2 linked regions of the Homo sapiens genome follow. The protein of the gene in region 2 interacts with the protein of the main gene of each other region in a pairwise test. Each region holds a gene or a part of one and is shown on either strand. Other genes may lie near its edges.

Region 1 (3,500 bases), on a different chromosome or scaffold from region 2:
TGGTTGGGAGAGGGCGCTTGGGAAGGATGTGCCACTGTCGGGAGGTTGTGAGTCACTGGGATGCCTCCAGGGATGATCCCTTCCATGGCTGCAGGAAGTCCTCCTGGAGCCACACCCACGATGCCTGGCGGATATCTAAGGAACACACAGAAATAGGGCCTTGTAAGTTCAGGGCAGAGTTGCCAAGCTCTTGGCTCTTCTACTTCTGGCCTTTTCATAAGAGACAGGAGCCCAGTGACATGAACATGGCTCACCTTGACCGACCTTCTGGGCTCAAGTGATCCCACCTCAGACACCCAAGTAGTGGCGACCACAGGCATGAGCCACCACGCCTAGCTAGTTTTTGTATTTTTTTGTAGAGATGCGGTTTTGCCAGACTGCCCAGGCTGGTCTCAAACTCTTGAGCTCAAGTGATGCCCCATCATAGGCCTCCCAGAGTCCTGGGAGTACAGGCGAGAGACACCAGGCCTGGCTAATAGTTTTTTTTTTTTTTTTTGAGATGGAGTCTCACTCTGTCGCCAGTCTGGAGTGCAGTGGCGTGAGCAATCTCAGCCCACTGCAACCTCTGCCTCCTGGGTTAAAGTGATTCTCCTGCCTCAGCCTCCCAAGTAGCTGGGACTACAGGTGTGCGCTACCACACCCGGCTAATTTTTATATTTTTAGTAGAGACGGGGTTTCACCACGTTGGCCAGGATGGTCTCAATCTCCCGACCTCGTGATCCGCCCGCCTCAGCCTCCCAAAGTGCTGGGATTACAGGCGTGAGCCACCATGCCCGGCCCTGGCTAACGATTTTTATGGGATAGTTTATCTTCCCTATCCCCAAAGCAAGGAGAAGTCTCAATTTTTATATAAAACACTGGCAACTAATTCATAAAAACAAAACTAGTCCAATCCAAACACGGGGCCACTAATTTTGTAGCTTTTAGATAAGAAGATATTAGCCCATACTATTTATGAATGTGGATACATTATACTATTTAAAAAAACCCACTTTGTACAAAATGGACTCCCAACTGTTCACCAGTTACTTCTGACTGATAAAATGATTTCCCAACAGAGTACAATGGACCCTTAGGGACTCAATGTTTGTCTCCCTCCATCCCCCTAATTCCAGTTCAAATCCCACACCTTAAAGGTGATGACCTTAAGAGGTAGAGCCCTTGGGAAGTGACTGGGTGAGGAAATGACTGGGTCATGAATGGGATCAGTGCCTTTACACAAGGGAGTCTAGTCAGTGCTCTGGCCCTCTCTCTGCCATATGAGGATGTGGGAAGAAGCTGACGGTCTGCTGCCTGGCCGTCACCAGAACCTGACCATGCTGGCAGCCTCATCTCAGACTTCCAGCCTCCAGAACTGCGAGCAAGGCATTTCTTTACAAGCCACCCAGTCTATGCTACTCAATTATGGCAGCCAGAACTCACTAAGCTTTCTAGGCTGGTTGGCTATATACTCCCATGGCCTGAGATGGGAAGTGGTATGCTTGCTGGCTGTTGGCTGGGGGCCCGCCTTCCTCGGAACGCCCAGGCTCGGGCTGGTTTTATATTGCAAGCACGAAGTGCTGTGTGAGGACACACTGCATTCGCCAACCACAGAACACAGGGTCCTCGGGCAAAGTGGGACTCAGTGTATTCACACAGACTTATCATCCATCCAGGTAGAGGAGGAGGCATCTCACTATGGTAGCCACCCCACCCCCAGCTCCTGGCCTGCCATCCTGTCACCAAGACCTTCAGAAGGACTCTGGTCATTAGGGTCCCTTCCTCAGTGCACACATACTGTTCTAGGGGGCCTAAGAGCCCCAGCTTACGTGAAGGATAAATAACAATGGAGACATGGAAGAGGTGGGCCCCCAGCTCCACCCAACAGGGGAATCTGGTGCTGTGATAGGCTCAAAATACTTTTGAGGGCCAAAAGGACGGGGCTGGATGAAATGTGAAGACAGCCATGTGACCTGCAAGCACCGGCATAGCTTCTTCAAGAGTGTCAGAGCCTTCATTACACAAACTGAATGCACCCTGGTCGTCACTGTGGCTACAGCAGGGGACATGTGGCTGGAGACATTCTCAATCATCATGAGTGGGAGTGGGAGGTGCTACTGGCATCCCGTGGGTAGAGGCCAGGGATGCCGCTGAACGTCCTACAATGCACAGGACAGGCCAGGCCTCCTACGAGAGAATGAAGAGAATGATCTGGCCCCAAATATACTTATTGCCAAGAGCTAGAAACCCTGGTTTAGAATATGCAAAAATTTTTCTTAAGATTCAAGGCTGCAACTTCATTCATTTATGCATGAGGGGGCTACTGATTTTCCTGGGAAGCCAGCAATAATGGGGGGGGGGGTGTGGGAGAAAACCGATTCGTGCATGGAAAATACCACAAAAGGAACCCCTTCTCCCTGTGAGGGCTCCTGTCTTTCCCCCACTCTGCGTTCCCAAACATGGCTCCAGTTTCTCAGCTGACCCAAACTACAGGTATCATTTTTAGTGTGTGGACAAGGTCATCATCCTGAGTTGATTGTACTATCCTGAGTTGACTGTACCAGAATGCCTTCTGTGGACATAAGATTCAAATTGGAAAATGAACTTGCTCACAGGCCTTTGCACTTGAACATCTTATCTACGTATACCTTTCTCTTTGAGAAGCCCTTTTTTTTTTTTTTTTTTTGGTGGTGGGGTGGGGTCGGGGGGTAGCAGCATTGTCTCACTCTGTGGCCTAGGCTGGAGTGCAGTGGGTGATCTCGGCTCACTGCAATCTCCACCTCCCAGCTTCAAGCACCTCTCCCACCTCAGCCTCCCTAGCAGCTGAGACTGCAGGTGTGCGCCACCACACGTGACTGGGAAGCCTTCTGGTTTTAAGATGGCTTTAGAATGAAAGGCAGTTCCTAGCACCTGTGGTCAATCACATCTGACCGAACACACCCCCTTTTAAAATAGGAGCTTCTGTTTGTTCCATGAAATTAGGCATTGGAAGAAATGGGGGCGGTGTACACAGTTCCTGCTGAGAAGGCTGATTGTTCTGACCCTGACTTAGCATCTGCGGGAGGTTAAGCTTCCGCCAAGTTTGGGCTTCTCTCCCTGGCCCCGGGGCCGTGGTGCTCACAAGCTGAGACAAAGTCAGTTCCTTTTCTCACCTGTATGTGGCACCATTGAGCTCAGGATGAATTGCTTGCTGGTCTATTACTGACCAAGGCGCTGATGTGACAAAGAATTCCTTGTTCACACAATTTCTTAAGCTTTCTGGGATGCGACCTAGGGTAAGATGATTAAAATTAATCATATTATTTTTACAAATCACAGTAAGTTCAACATTACACCTGTAGCTGCTTATGTGGGGAAATAAGCATTTGTAAAAATGTAGAACATCCAAAGGCCCAAGTGCTTGAGCTCTTCAACACTGACCTTCAGCCTCTGTGTGCCCCCCGACCCCCGAGTTTATAATGTCTGGGACTAAAGGGAATGGTTCCCTCTGTGAAGTTTAGTTCAGGGCTTACGTAAATAAA
Region 2 (3,500 bases):
CAAGTATTTATAAACACAAAAGACTTACTGTGATATAGAAGTGTAACGAAATGCTGTTAACAGAATATTCTTGACTTATAGAAAGGACCCTGTTAGAAACTACTTTGTACCCCTGCCAATAATGGCGTGGTTAAGTAATTTGAAGAATACCTTACTGGCCCAGAGCTAAATAAATATACACTCCACCTCCCTCAACTCCTTCAAATTTAAAGTGAGCTTGTTATTCAACAACAATAAAAACTAAATTTCTTCAAAATACAGAAGAGAAAAAGCAGTGTTTAAACCCAAACACCATTAAATATTTTTTCTTTTAAGTTTTTATTATTTAAATACACCATACTAGAGCAAATGTCTCTGAAAATATCACAAATAAAAGATTTTTTTTTTTCTTCATTCAGCAAATTAGAAGTAGGGGGAATTTTCTACACAGTAGCTGCTATGAGCCTGATTTTTTTTTCCAAATTTTTTTCTTTTTTTCATTCTTTTTTTTTTCTTTGCCATGGGAGTAGCAACATTAGGACAAAAACACTTACATGCATACATACATTGTATTTTACAGAGATACAATAAGTGTTTGTGATAGAATATCACAAAAGCCACATCTCTTTCCTTTATCTCATGGTCAGTTTTGATTGAAACACGTTTCCTTACAACACTTAAATATACAAAGAGCAAATAGAATGTTGTTAAGGTAAAACACAGGGTACAAACTCTGGCCAGTGCCCTGCTAATTGTTAATGAGGGTAGAAAGCAGATTTGAATGCTTCTTTTAATTAGCTTCATTAGTCATTTCCCTCCCCCCCAGCTCCCTCCCCCTCCCCAAGATGTCCTCTGGTGGATCTTTTTTCATTTTCTCTACAGTCTCCCATTAGCCCAGGTTCATGGAGTCCTTAATGTTCATATTCAGTCATTTTAATACACCAATAAATGCGGGAAGGGCAATCAAGACTAAAGAAGGTGCAATGGCATGGAGCTGGCACTGGTGCTAGCTACAAAGGTGACTTGTCTACTGAAGACACATGGGATCCACCTGTGATGAACAAATCTGAGATGAAGGCACGCATTCTGCATTACTCTGACCTTTTAGCAGACCTGCAAGAAATAAAAACGGGCATCTTAGCTAAAATGCTAAATTTGAGAGATATTAAACTCAAACATGACTGCTTTTGTCTTCCCCACATTCACTAATCTTCTTTTATTAGATTACTTTCCAACTGTGACTTGATAGAGGCTTTCTATGCTACTTACTCTGGCAGTGAAGAACTAAAGCATAACATTTTCTGCAGTTTTACTAGCAAAGAAAATGAGACAGTAAATGGACGCTCAGAAAGTTTCTGGTGTAAAGTACTACAATTAATTGCTTAACTCTGTTAAGAGCAAGTGTCTTTCCAAAAGGAATGTAACATCTTGCCCAGCAGTGGGATCTTGAATTTTTTAAATAGCGGGGACATTCCAAGACAAGTTCCTACCTAGGAAGTTTTGGGTTCATATGCTTAACCGTGTAACCTTTTGGAATGTTGCTTAAACTGCTTGTGTCTCAGTTTCCTCATCTTTAAAGAAGGGATAATGACACTGTTATGATAATTACATAATACATATGGGAGCACTTTCAACAGTGCTTGGCCCTTAATAAAAGTTCAACAAATACTGGCAGTTATCATTATTATTCCGATATCCCCATGTGAAAAATATTCACCCATATTGGTACTACCTATAGGTGTGTGTCTATATGAAAATTTCTATGTACAAATATTCACATATTTTTCACTATTTCTTATCTGCTATGTCACTTAATAGCTACACAAATATGTGATTCAATACATGCAATGTGTTAATGACCTGTGATAGATAAAAGAACATAGTTCAATGCAAGGGTGGCTTCAATGTCTAAGTCAGAAATGGAAATCCACACACTTGTCAAATACAATCTGTTTGCAATTACCAAAATGAAATAATACATATTAGGTTGTTATGGTTTTTAAATGACATTTTGAGCCTCCCAGGAAGTTCTCGTTTCACCCTTTCCCTAACTTACAAAAAGCCTGTAGTCTATTAGGAACTGCAACCCCCTACTTCCAAGCTAATTAAAGTGGTGAAGGCTTAATTCCCCAGAGTGGAAGCTCAGTGTGAGAAAGGTAATTTGTCTGTCCAGAACAAAGATGCAGCAGCAGCCAGCAAGCATATTTAATAAATGAGCATCAAATGTCTTCTACGATGGACACACACAACACCAATTATGTAACTATGGGGGAACTGCGAAGTGACATGTAGACTAGAACACTCACTAAATTTTCCTCCAACTAAAGAGATGTGATCTAACTCCTGTTCCACTGAAAACTGAAAAGCACAGGTAATTCTAGATGGCACCATCACACTTTTGAGTGGAAGAAAAAAATTCCAGAACAGGCAGCAATCTACAAAAGAAAAAATTAGCCACAATTCCTGATTTACATAACCCTCTAGAAGGCAGCATTCTCCCAAAGCTAGCCAAGCCTCCTTTAAGTGATATAGGTTATAAAATGTTGTAGATCCTTGAACACTAGTGGCCTGAGATTTCAGTCCATCTGAAATGCAAGATTTCAATCACTGTATGATTTAAAAGCTTAAAATTATTTTTCTTGGAATATACAACAGCCAATGATGCAGAACAACAACTACACTACACAGCCCAGACCCTGGGAACAAATCTCAGAATAAAAGTTTAAAGGGACCAGACAATGGGGGCCTATGTTTTCCATGCAATTAACTGCCTTTAAAGAAGGGATGTTCGAATAATCAACTCATTGCTTTTAAGCCAGAGGATCCTTGAGTATATTTACCACGCATAATACACCAAAAATGTAATTGATTCTGCGAATAGAAGGAAAATGGCCAAAATAAATGTCCAATTTTCCCTACCAAAAATATGGAGAACGAGAGAGGAGAAAATAATAAAACGAAGCCATTTGTCATTTCTCCCCATCTCATTGCCTCCAGAAAAGAAACGCCACAGGGTTTTGGGAAAATAATTTTAAAGCCTCTCCAGTTCCAAAAAGCAGTTTATGTTCCACCAGGAAGTATGTTTTCATTAACTCTTCCCCCTTGCCCTCTCATTAATATCTCTCTGGACCACGTTCAGCTTGCCCAAAACCTTTATTTATAAAAACTACCTTGTGAATTGACCGTGCTCATGGTGAGCTGGGCACCAAGGGCAAAAATGTGAGACACTTACGCCAACAGGGAAATGTTCTTAATTAACAGCACCCCCAAAACACAGCTTCTCACCAATGTCTGACAAGAACATTTCCATAAGTTGTATTTCCTTATGCCTTTTAAGAGCTATTAATTTTTGAAGGCCACCTGTCTCTTTTTTGGCCTCCAACATTAAGAAAACATACACTAATAGGTTCTTATTCATTGCCTAAAATATAGTGTTCCAAAATGAATACCCTACCACTGCCATCCTGGAAAAGGTGTGGAAAACAGATTTCAATGAAAGGCATAAGACATGTAATCTCATC

Evidence for each region. Proteins that work in one complex are often made in the same cells at the same time.
Region 1: the proteins of LMO4 (region 2) and CTBP2 interact in binary tests that used the Homo sapiens proteins (3 or more experiments, as listed by UniProt).

The regions. Positions count from the first base shown.
Region 1 is NC_000010.11:124,989,564-124,993,063, forward strand, and holds part of CTBP2 (C-terminal-binding protein 2), read right to left. Parts: intron 3,250-3,500; coding exon 3,132-3,249; intron 136-3,131; coding exon 1-135. UniProt on the Homo sapiens protein: Corepressor targeting diverse transcription regulators. Functions in brown adipose tissue (BAT) differentiation. Isoform 2 probably acts as a scaffold for specialized synapses.
Region 2 is NC_000001.11:87,342,380-87,345,879, reverse strand, and holds part of LMO4 (LIM domain transcription factor LMO4), read right to left. Parts: intron 1,093-3,500; coding exon 1,084-1,092; 3' UTR 1-1,083. UniProt on the Homo sapiens protein: Transcription cofactor. Plays a role in establishing motor neuron identity, in concert with MNX1, acting, at least in part, to disrupt LDB1-LHX3 complexes thereby negatively modulating interneuron genes in motor neurons.